3 linked regions of the Homo sapiens genome follow. The protein of the gene in region 1 purifies or fractionates together with the protein of each later gene. This does not show direct contact. Each region holds a gene or a part of one and is shown in the gene's direction. Other genes may lie near its edges. The genes, in order: E2F8, IFRD2 and OR1M1.

Region 1 (3,645 bases):
ATGGTCGGTGCTCTGTAACTTGCCACTTTTATTCCTAAAATTGTTTTATTTCATATCCCAAAAGCCAACTGAGCCATCCAGGTTTTAATACACAGACGTTTTCTGTTTCAGGCTCCAGCCCAGTCATTCATTTTACTCCCTCTGATTTGGAGGTGAGACGGTCTTCAAAAGAGAACTGTGCCAAAAACCTCTTTTCCACACGTGGGAAACCAAACTTTACTCGACACCCATCTCTTATCAAATTGGTAAAGAGTATAGAAAGTGATCGGAGAAAGATAAATTCTGCGCCCAGTAGCCCTATCAAGACCAACAAAGGTATGTTTTCAGGAATGTCAGGGATCTGCTAGGAAGAATTCCCTTTTATCTCATTTTTTCAGCTTACTTGATCCTTGCAATAGTTGTCAGAGAATTATTTCAATATCTATATACCCAAACCCTCTTGAAGCCTAACTAATGTATAAATTTAAAAAGTCATTTGTGGGGTTTATTGTTTAATCGCTATGCAACTTTGAGGGGAGGTGCACACTTTCTGTTCCTCTGACTTCAGTGAGGTTTCATCTGTGTGAACATTTGTTCTTTAGCTTTGACCGGTGCTCTCTTCCTTTCTATTTTACCAGCTGAGAGTTCTCAGAATTCTGCACCCTTCCCAAGTAAAATGGCTCAGCTCGCAGCTATTTGTAAAATGCAGTTAGAAGAGCAATCAAGGTAGGTTGGCAATCCTCTTTAATAACAGGATGAATTACTTTTACATTACATTGTTAGGATTACTTATTTTATGTGAGAAGAAGCCCTAGCCTTGAACTGGAGAGCTAATCTTTTCTGTATCTCATACTCACTCATTACAGAAATTATCTGCATGTTCCATAAAAGCGTGGCTTCAATATGAGGCTTAAAGCGGTAGAACAGTTCAGAAAAAATGTATATCCATCATGTCGTGTATTAAATCTTGTCTTTCAGTGAATCCAGACAGAAAGTGAAAGTACAGCTGGCAAGATCTGGACCCTGCAAACCAGTAGCCCCTCTGGACCCCCCAGTGAATGCTGAGATGGAGCTGACAGCACCGTCCCTCATCCAGCCCCTGGGAATGGTTCCCCTGATCCCCAGCCCCTTGTCATCAGCAGTGCCCCTGATCCTACCTCAGGCCCCTTCAGGCCCATCCTATGCCATCTACCTGCAGCCCACTCAAGCCCACCAAAGTGTGACGCCACCCCAAGGCCTGAGCCCAACGGTGTGCACCACCCACTCTTCTAAAGCTACTGGCTCAAAAGACTCCACAGATGCCACCACTGAGAAGGCAGCCAATGATACCTCAAAGGCCAGTGCCTCTACCAGGCCTGGAAGCTTGCTGCCAGCACCAGAGAGGCAAGGGGCAAAGAGCCGAACCAGGGAGCCAGCTGGAGAAAGAGGCTCAAAGAGGGCAAGCATGCTCGAGGACAGTGGTTCCAAAAAGAAATTTAAAGAGGACCTAAAAGGACTTGAAAATGTCTCCGCAGTAAGTACAGCCTTGAACTGCACAAAGCTTTAGGAATTCCCTAGTCTATTACAGGAAGATTGGTGGCTTGTGAAATTTACCGAAGAGCATTCTCTCAGAAGACAAGGAACTGTTCCTTAGCATCCCATAATCCAAGTGAGGCCCTCAACAGCTAATCCCCTGGCTGGGATGAAGGCAGGGACATTTTTAACCTTTGGAGGAAGGGATTATTTGCTGTCTTTTTAAAGTACCATGGGTGGTTGTCCTTAAGTCCATTTCTCCATCACACACTGGAATGCAAACAGCTGTCATGAAAGTCTTAAATAATTTACAAGCAGACGTAACCCCAAATGAACGTGTGGATGCATAGGGTTCCTGTAACTCCTGCTTTCTGAGTCATTACCTAATGTTTGTTTGTTGTCATGTAACTGGCATCTGTTGCCTAGAAGATAAATTGCTCCCCGTTTTTACTTTCTACCTAAAATTTAAATCAAAATTTCTATTTCATGTAAATAGAAAAATCAAACTGATCTTGGCAAATTGTAGATATAGTTCATGTATTGGTTTCTAGAGATTTTGACATGCTAGACAAATTTTTTTCCTAAGTGGAGATTAGTTCCGGAGGGAATTAATATTTATTGGATGCCTACCCACATATAGCAGACATAATAGATATTAGTCACTTTTACATACAGTATCTCATTTTCCTCCCTTAGGACAATTATATATGAGAGACATTACTGTATCATCCGATAAATACCACTAAATGTGCAAGTAAAAGTTAATCTCTCATTTTGCCCCTGCTCTTAATACAAGCTATTTTACTTCTCTCTGTCTTATTTTTCCGCATCGGTAAAGAATTTATTCCACCAGTTTTTCCTCATCACCTACTGGATATAAAGCACTGTGCTCTGGATCAAATCTAACCCAGCACCTGCCTTTGGTGGCAATTGCTTTTGGGTACTTGCCTGTGGGCATATGATAGTTTTTGTGGGGTTAAGTGAATTTATTCCATGATGATACACATAAAAGGGTTTGATCCTTTTAAGACGTGTTATAAGCTGAAAGGTATTATCTGTTACGTTGTTATTAAAGAGGAAGCTTAGAGTTTGTCAAATCTTCCCTGAGGATGGCCTCATGGTAACCATTCAAAACATCTATTATCTTACATAGTATCCTTTTGTATTTAATGTATATGCCAAGTGGGAAATCATAAGGTTTCAATATTCTGGAAGGTCCATAACTTCTTTTGGCCAATGGGTATGATTTAATAATGGTCTCCTGTTGCTTACATAGTTATTCAGGATTAGGATTTTCAGTGGATAGATTTTCCATATACTCCTGCTTCTTTTTTATATCTCTGCAACTCTAACCATTTCTTTTTTCTTTTGAGACAGGGTCTTACTCTGTCACCCAGAATGGAGTGCAGTGGCATGATTTTAGCTCACTGCAGCCTCGACCTCCAAGGCTTAAGTGATCCTCCCACCTCAGTCTCCCAAGTAACTTAGACTACAGGTGTGCTGCCATGCCCGGCTAATTTTTTATTTTTTGTGGAGACGGGGTTTCACCATGTTGCTCAGCCTGGTCTCGAACTCCTGAGCTCAAGCAGTCTGCCTGCCTTGGCTTCCCAAAGTGCTGAGATCACAGGCATTTGCCGTCATGCCCAGCCCACTTTAACCATTTCGTTTTAGTATGGCCTGAGCAAAACAAAGACAATGAGAGAGTCATGTGTTAATTCATTCAACAAATTTTTACTGAGAATTTATACTTCTAGGGGTGGAAAGAAGATAAGTATGCAAGTAAACACAAACATATCAGGTAGTGAATGATAGGAATGAAGATGACATGATAGGAGGAAGGGGTGGAAGGGCTACTGTAGGCTAGAAGAGTTCAAGTTCAAATATGTCAGATTCATTCGGCAATTTAATAGTTCTAATTATTTTATAAAAAAGGGAATTGGCATAGGTTAAAAGATTCTATAATGAATATAGTTTGTTGGAAATTTAAAAATTATTATTCTATTATTGTGGGTTTTACTGAAGACTTGAAAGAGTTAAACCAGCAGTCAGAATAATTTGTACCATGAGAGAATATAACTAAAGCTAATAGAGCGCAGGTCTTCATAAAGCACCTAAATTTGCCCCTTAAAAATTCTCTCTTCCTGCAGTTTTCAA
Region 2 (4,139 bases), on another chromosome or scaffold:
CTGGCCAGCCCAGCACTGGCTTAGCAGCTCTCTGCCTCCAGGATGACCTTGTGCAGTCCATTGGTGTGAGTGCAGCACTAGGGGCAGCCGGCGTGGTGCTCTGGGGGGACCTGAGCCTCTCCAGCTCTGAGGTGATCATTGCCCCTTTGAGCCTGCCATGTAGCACATGCTGGGGTCCCAGGGTGGGGGACGGCCATGTCAAGATTATAGAGCAGGCATATTGACACATATCTTCCCTTCTCCTCAGGAGGAGTGCTGGCATCTCCATGACTACCTGGTGGACACCTTGGGCCCCTATGTGATCAATGTGACCAGGGCAGCGATGGCCTGCAGTCACCAGCGGTGCCATGGCCACGGGCGCTGTGCCCGGCGAGATCCAGGACAGATGGAAGCCTTTCTACACCTGTGGCCAGACGGCAGCCTTGGAGATTGGAAGTCCTTCAGCTGCCACTGTTACTGGGGCTGGGCTGGCCCCACCTGCCAGGAGCCCAGGCCTGGGCCTAAAGAAGCAGTATAAAGCCAGGGCCCCTGCCACTGCCTCTTCTTTTCCCTGCTGCCACTTTTCCAGTCCTGGAACTACTCTGTCCCACTCTTGCTCTATTCAGTTTACAGTCAACCCTCCCAAGCACACACCCCGCTTCCCTTGGAATCCCTGAGGGGTAGAAGGGGCCAGAAAAAACGCTTATAAAACCAGAGGCCCTCTGAGATCATGTGAGTCCTCCATGGCAAGGAAGCAGTTCCAGGGAGAGTCAGGTTCCAGCTAGTTAGGGCTGCCAGCCTAGGGCTTTGTGCCTACACCTCACTAAGCCCATGGAGAGGTCACAGATGGGCCGTGCACGGGCAGATGGGCCCCAAAAAATCTTGGCGAAGGTCGGTAAAGTGCTAAGCTGTTGTCTGCACTCTTTCATCATAAAGTCACTTTTTTCCACTGCCTGAGGTTTGGCTGTTGCTCCTGTTATCCCAAGCTCTAAGCCCTTCCCATGGTCCCCAGACCCAGGCAGGGGTAGGTCTCGTCTGGAGTGTCCCGCTGCCAAGTGCCCTGAGAAGCCAGTCCTGCCTTGGTGCTCCACTGAGGGACGCTTCGGAGTTAACCACCGTGCACTTGTTCCCGACGCGGGGCTGGGGCGCGCGCAGGGCATTGTGGGTGCATAGTTCAGCCAGCGCGTCGTCGGCTGGTGGGCCCCAGGCGTGGACTACCATTCCCATGGTGCTCTACGCGCAGCTAGCCGCCGTCGCCTGCGCGCTCAGGCCTCTGGGATTAGTAGTTTTAGCCTCGTGGATGTGGGCCTGAATCGGATGGCCTGGAACTCGCCTTCCCGGCGACCTGTTTGGCAGGGCGGGGCGCCTCGCGAAGATGGTGGCGCGCGTGGCGTGTGGCTCCCGTCGTCTGGCCAAGTCTCAGCGCAGCGCACCGGCCGGCGTCTCGTTGGCCTGGAGCCCACACCCACCGGGTCCCTGACCCCGCGCCCCCCGCGCCCGGTTCCCGGCATGCCTCGCGCCCGTAAGGGCAACACGCTCCGGAAGGGTGGTCAGCGCCGTGGAGGAGGTGAGTGGGGTGGGGGGCGCGGGACAGCTGTATGAGCGGCGGGCGGGGGTCCTGCTGGATCCCCTTGGTTGTTCTCGAGGGCCCTGGGTGGGGAACCCCCTCGGCCAGCCCCACGCAGCTTCCCATAACTCTACCGAGGCTGGCACGTGCCCCAGCAGTCATTGGCCACGTGCGTGCCCAACTTGAGCTCGCTGCCCACTGCCTGTTGGGAGTCCGCGCTCCCAGCGGTGACCCGGCCAGCCCCTCCGGGCCTCAGTTGCCTGCTGGGTGGACAAACTCACCGGACAGGGCAGGAAGCCAGTCCTCTTGCCAAACCCTGATCCTTTCCTGGACTGGTCAAGGAAGTTGGCGGGAGTCCTGGCCTGCTCCGGTGAAGAGAGGGAGGGGGCTCTGTTGGGAAGCTACCTGGTTAGGGCCTTGGCAGCTTGGCAGGCCTGACTCCACAAGGTAGCTGAGTATCCTGGAGCCTGAGGCAGTCTTGGGACTCGCTTATCAGCTTAGACCAGGAGCCTATCTTAATGCGTTAAACACATATGTTTACTCTGCTGGGATGGGGTGCCTACCACGCACAAATTTATTTATTTTTATTCTTGAGGGGGAAGGGAGGAGGGCCGGGCACAGGAAGGAGGAAAATACCTAGGCACAACTTTAAACTGGTCACCACCATGGTGGGTTTTGGGTGGGGGACATCTAATAGGGTGTGGAACATGTTCACTGAGTGGTGTCAGCCCCAGACTTAGGACTCAGGGAGGCCTGGGGGGAAGTGCTTCTGGGTGAGTCCTGAGAGGATGGAGAAGAGAGCAAGTTGTACAAAGACCTGGCAGCTGGAGGGACCCCAGCGCAGTGGAGTGAATGAGGGAAGGCTGGGCTGCTCCGGCAGGTAGAATAGTAAGATAAAATGGGAGCAGGCTGGGCGTGGTGGCTCACACCTGTAATCCCAGCACTTTGGGAGGCCAAGGCAGGCAGATCACCTGAGGCCAGGAGTTCGAGACCAGCCTGACCAACATGGAGAAACCCTATCTACTAAAAATACAAAATTAGCTGGGTGTGGTGTCGTATGCCTGTAATCCCAGCTACTCGGGAGGCTGAGGCAGGAGAATCACTGGAACCCGGGAGGCAGAGGTCGCAGTGAGCCGAGATGGCGTCATTGCACTCCAGCCTGGGCAACAAGAGCAAAACTCTGTCTCAAAAAAAAAAAAAAAAAAAAAAGGTGGCGGGGAGCAGAGGCCAGTGCGCAGGCTGGACTTTGTCCTGCAGATGAGGGGTGTGAGTAGTTCTTAGAAGTAGGGCCAGCCTGGTGATCACACCCTGTCCAAAACTCTGCCACAGCAGCCAACCTTGCCAATGTCAGCCCTTGGCCCTGGACAGACCCCACACACAGGAGTGCACCAGCCCTACTGAACTGACCCTTGGCTTTGGTTTTTCATCTCTGAGAGGGACACCATTCTATCTTTTGGGATTATGAGGTCGAGTGAGGTACCCCCAGCCATCCCTCATCAGTAGAGGCAAGTTGAGTGTCCTATTCCACCTTCTCCAGGTGCCCGGAGCAGTGCCCAAGCTGACTCGGGTTCCAGTGACGATGAGGCAGCCAGTGAGGCCCGCAGCACCGCCAGTGAATGCCCCAGCCTTCTCAGCACCACTGCAGAGGACAGCCTTGGTGAGAGCGGGTGGAAGTTTGACAGGGGCTTGGTGAGGGCTCCATGGGCTGAGGACAAGAAGCGGTGCTGACCAGGTGGCCTTGCAGGGGGGGATGTCGTGGATGAGCAGGGCCAGCAGGAAGACCTTGAGGAAAAGCTGAAGGAGTATGTGGACTGTCTCACAGACAAGAGGTACCCCTGGCTGCCAGCCAACTCCTACACCCAGCTCCAAGTGTGATCAAGGGAGGGCTGGCCCATATGACCCCCCTTCTCGACCTCCCCCAGTGCCAAGACCCGGCAGGGTGCTCTTGAGAGCCTGCGCCTGGCCCTAGCGTCCCGCCTACTCCCCGACTTCTTGCTGGAGCGCCGCCTCACGCTAGCCGATGCCCTGGAAAAGTGCCTCAAGAAAGGTTGGACCTGGGGGTGTGTGGGAGACTTAAACTGGGCAGACACTGGCCCTTGCTGCATGGGCTGACTGGAAAGCATCCCACAGGGAAGGGCGAGGAACAAGCCCTGGCTGCTGCTGTGCTAGGCCTGCTCTGCGTGCAGCTGGGCCCTGGACCTAAGGGTGAGGAGCTGTTTCACAGCCTGCAGCCTCTGCTGGTCTCTGTGCTCAGTGACAGCACAGCTAGCCCTGCTGCCCGGCTCCACGTGAGTGTGCCTGTGCCCCATGAAACCCTTCCTGCACCTTATCCCTCAGCAGAGTGGTGGGTTCCCCCTATCTTCAGCCTCCTTTACTCTGAGGGGAGTGAGCTCCAGGGCTGGGAACCCAGGTTCACCCGCTGACCGTGGCATTGCATTGCCCTTCTCCCAACAGTGTGCTTCTGCCCTTGGCCTGGGCTGCTACGTGGCTGCCGCTGACATCCAGGTGAGGGGTCTTTGGGCACAGGTGGTAGAGCATCTAGGGCTGTAACTCTGCCTCTGAGCTCCCCTGCCTCTCTGTGCTCCTAGGACCT
Region 3 (4,276 bases), on another chromosome or scaffold:
CGGTGAGCCAAGATTGCACCACTCTACTCCAGCCTGGATCACAGAGCGAGACTCCATCTCAAAATAATAATAATAATAATGGTATTGTGGTTATGCTTTCAAAAAGAGCTTTTTGTTTTTTGAAGACATACCAAAATCATTATACATATGGAATTTGCTCTGAAATTATCTCTGGGAAGAGAGAGGTCAAAGTAGGTAGGACACAGATTCAACAGAGGCTTGACTTGGTAGGTGTGGAAGCTGAGTGATTGGGCACACAGGATTTCATTATATGAAGCTGAGGCATACCAAAAAAAAAAATGCCAGTTTTGTTGATCAAAAATGGTAGAATATTGACAATTGCATATGGCTCAACCTAGTATTTTGCTCTTTACATAGCTAAAGGCTTTGAAAAACTGAGCCTTCATGTATCCATCAGTTTCATGAGTGTTTACTGAGTAGACACAACCCAATAATCTGGGCATGACCTTATAAAACCAAATTCCTGAAAATTCCCAGTAATGCCACCATGGTCCCAATACTCAGTGAGAATCTGGCTGCAGACTTAGTCAGCCAACCACTCTCTCCATGTACATCCATTAGGGTAGGCTCTAGTTTCTCCTTTTGCAGAACTGAATGAAAGCCATGATCCCTTTATAGAGAGTTGTTCTGTTGAGGTTGAGTGATGAAAGCAGGCAGCCCTGGGTCTTGGTGACAGATCACTGGGTGGACGTGGGAAAATGTTTGGAGTGTTTCTTAGTTCTTTTCTTTTTTTTTTTTTTTTTTTTTTTGAGATGGAGTTTCGCTCTTGTTGCCCAGGCTGGAGTACAATGGTGCAATCTCGGCTCACCACAACCTCTGCCTCCTGGGTTCAAGCGATTCTTCTGCCTCAGCCTCCTGAGTAGCTGGGACTACAGGTGTGCACCACCATGCCAACTAATTTTTGTATTTTTAGTAGAGACAGTGTTTCACCATGTTGGCCAGGATTGTCTCAATCTCTTGACCTCATGATCCACCCGCCTCAGCCTCCCAAAGTGCTGGGATTACAGGCGTGAGCCATCACACCCGGCCATTTCTTAATTCTTTAAGTGATGAGGAACATTGGCTTCCAATAAGAATGGAACCTTCTGATATAAGAAGCCCTGGGCATTGGAAAGACTGAGTTTAGAAGACAGGGAGAGTTTGTTCCTGGAAGAGAGGGTGCAGAGAAAGTTAGGAATCATGCAACTTACCCCTAAGTTGCCTCATGAAGACATAAAATGCTTCTTACTGCCACGTCCCAGCCCCCATAGGAAACAGAACTATTCAGGGACTAGAGATGAAATTGGACAATTTGTGTAACAAGGAGCTTGGGGAATTGACTTCTTATTGGCCCAGAAATTGTAAATATTCCCTCGGTTCCTACAACTTATCCCCCACCCTAGCTTTTCTTCTTTGGACCAGGAGGACAACTTCCCAGTATTTCTATGTAGCATCTGCTGGCCCAAACATCTAACTTCATCATCTAGTACCTGCTGGGAGGACACTGAGCCAGTTTAACTCATGCCTGGGTGATGGTGTCAAGAAGAGGAAAGATAGCCCAGTGAGTGAGCTGAGAGAGAGAGAGAGAGAGAGAGACTGAACGAATGTTGGTAAAATTAATGAAGCCAAGCTCAATGATCTCAGATACACTGGAAGATTCTTTTTTATTATTTATTGATTTACTGATTTATTTATTTTAGAGACAGAACCTTGCTCTGTTATTCAGGCTGGAGTGCAGTGGCACAATCACAGCTCACTGCAGCTTCTACCTCCTGGGCTTAAGCAATCCTCCTGCCTCAGCCTCTAGAGTAGCTGGAACTACAGGCATGTGCCACCACACCCAGCTGATTTTTTGAACATTTTTCCCCCACCGAGATGGAGTTTTGCTCTTGTTGCCCAGGCTGGAGTGCAATGGCACGATCTTGGCTCACTGCAACCTCTGACTCCCAGGTTCGAGCAATTCTCCTACCTCAGCCTCCCGAGTAGCTGGGATTACAGGCATACACCACCATGCCTTGTGAATTTTGTATTTTTAGTAGAGACAAGGTTTCACCATGTTGGTCAGGCTGATCTCGAACACCTGACCTCAGGTGATCACCCGCCTCAGCCTCCGAAAGTACTGGAATTCACTGTGCTCGGCCGACACTGGAAGATTCTGTCTGGTCAATCAGCACCCACTTGTCAGCCCAGAATCCAATGGCTCTTCTTACCAAACTAGCTCAGCCTGGTTTAGTTGTGATGCTACCAGTCCTTTACCTAAAAACCATGATTATTTGTAGCACTGTTTTTCTTCGTAACTAGACTTTTTTTTTGAAATGGAGTCTTACTCTGTCACCCAGGCTGCAGTGCAGTGGCATGATCTTGGCTCACTGCAACCTCCATCTCTCAGGTTCAAGAGATTCTCCTGCCTCAGCCTCCCAAGTAGCTGGAATTACAGATGCCCGCCACCACACCCAGCTAATTTTTGTATTTTTAGTGGAGCTGGGGTTTCACCATAATGGCCACGCTGGTCTCCAACTCTTGACCTCAGGTGATCCACCCGCCTCAGCCTCCCAAAGTTCTGGTATTACAAGCATGAGCCACTGCGCCCAGCCTGGACTTTCTTTTCCAAGCCCACTTGAGTGCCTGAAGGAACAGATGGCTTCCTCCTCAGTACTTCTGTAGGCAGAAGTTTGTGTTATTCCCCATGTTGGGTCTTGGAAGCCCTTGGAGATTCCCAAGTATTCCAGGCTGAGAGATCTTAGACACAGAGTGCAGAGGTCCAGATAGGATAGGACTGGTGCTTCCTTGGAGAGAGGCTCATCAAGAAGCTTAAGGGATGAATCTTCGGGTTCCTGATACTTAAATTTTTCCCAAGAGCTGTGGAAGAATGAGGAGTGACAGAGTAATTCAGTGAAAGCTTAGGTGTCAGGGCAGGAGGATGTCTGAGATCAGTTCCTTGATTCCATTAGTAGTTTAATCACAGAGCATTCACTGGCTTCCTTGAGATGGAAAAATACTCTGACTCGGCCAGGCACGGTGGCTCACACCTGTAATCCCAGCACTTTGGAAGGCCGAGGCGGGCGGATCACCTGTGGTCAGGAGTTCAAGACCAGCCTGGCCAGCATGGTGAAACCCCATCTCTAGTAAACATACAAAAAAATTAGCCAGGTGTGGTGGTGGGTGCCTGTAATCCCAGCTACTCGGGAGGCTGAGGCCAGAGAACCATTTATATCCGGGAGGCAGAGGTTGCAGTGAGCTGAGATTGCACCATTGCACTCCTGCCTGAGCAACAAGAGCGAAACTCTGTCTCAAAAAAAAAAAAAATACTCTGACTCCTTTTAAAATGTTTTAATTGTATATATTTATGAGGTACATAGTAATGTTTCCATATATGTAATGTATAGTGATCAGATCTGGGTAATTAGCACATCTATTATCACAAACATTTATCATTTCTCTGTGTTGGGAACACTCAATATCCTCCTTCTAGCTGTTTAGCTATATAGCATATTATTGTTAACTGTATTCATCCTACAGGGATATAGAACACTAGAACTTATTCTTCCAATTTGCCTGTAGTTCTGTATGCTGTAACAAATCTCTTCCTATCTGCCCCCTCCCTCTACCCTTCCCAGACTCTAGTATCCTCTGTTCTTTTTACTTCTATGAAATCATTTTTTTTCTTTTAGCTTTCACATGTGAGTGAGAACATGCAGTGTTTAACTTTCTGTTCCTGGCTTATTTCATTTATAATATGCTCCAATTCTTTCCATGTTGCTGTAAATGACAAGATCTCCTTCATTTTTATGGCTGAATAGTTTTCCATTGTGTATTTCTACCACATTTTTTTTTTTTTTTTTTTGAGACAGAGTTTCGCTCTTGTCACCCCGGCTGGAGTGCAATGGCACAATCTCAGCTCACTGCAACCTCCGCCTCCTGGGTTCAAGCGATTCTCCTGCCTCAGCCTCCCAAGTAGCCAGGATTACAGGGGCCCACCACTACGCCCGGATAATTTTTTGTATTTTTAGTAGAGACGGGGTTTCACCATGTCGGCCAGGCTGGTCTCGAACTCCTGACCTCAGGCAATCCGCCTGTCTCAGCCTCCCAAAGTGCTGGGATTACAGGTGTGAGCCACTGTGCCCTGCCTAAAGCCAACACATTTTCCAAAAATCCCTGGCTGCCTCAACAGTTTTCGGAGTGCTCTTACAATCCTCAGGGGTGCTGTGTGTGGGGTGTGATTCTCTATTAATCCAAGCTCCTCATAATCTGATAAATGCTGCCTGGAGTTCATCTC

What was found.
Region 2: the proteins of E2F8 (region 1) and IFRD2 purify together in Homo sapiens (affinity purification with mass spectrometry; one large-scale study listed by BioGRID and IntAct). This does not show direct contact.
Region 3: the proteins of E2F8 (region 1) and OR1M1 purify together in Homo sapiens (affinity purification with mass spectrometry; one large-scale study listed by BioGRID and IntAct). This does not show direct contact.

What each region holds. Positions count from the first base shown.
Region 1 is NC_000011.10:19,227,301-19,230,945, reverse strand, and holds part of E2F8 (transcription factor E2F8), read left to right. Parts: intron 1-111; coding exon 112-315; intron 316-617; coding exon 618-705; intron 706-957; coding exon 958-1,492; intron 1,493-3,645. UniProt on the Homo sapiens protein: Atypical E2F transcription factor that participates in various processes such as angiogenesis and polyploidization of specialized cells.
Region 2 is NC_000003.12:50,289,624-50,293,762, reverse strand, and holds the start of IFRD2 (interferon-related developmental regulator 2), read left to right. Parts: upstream 1-1,333; 5' UTR 1,334-1,488; coding exon 1,489-1,546; intron 1,547-3,083; coding exon 3,084-3,203; intron 3,204-3,290; coding exon 3,291-3,375; intron 3,376-3,468; coding exon 3,469-3,593; intron 3,594-3,676; coding exon 3,677-3,834; intron 3,835-4,000; coding exon 4,001-4,051; intron 4,052-4,134; coding exon 4,135-4,139. Other genes in the region: HYAL3 (hyaluronidase-3 isoform 1 precursor), read left to right, coding at 42-131, 248-517. UniProt on the Homo sapiens protein: Ribosome-binding protein that acts as an inhibitor of mRNA translation by promoting ribosome inactivation. Associates with the P- and E-sites of the ribosome and inserts a C-terminal helix into the mRNA exit channel to preclude translation.
Region 3 is NC_000019.10:9,085,597-9,089,872, forward strand, and holds the start of OR1M1 (olfactory receptor 1M1), read left to right. Parts: upstream 1-1,464; 5' UTR 1,465-1,561; intron 1,562-4,276. UniProt on the Homo sapiens protein: Odorant receptor.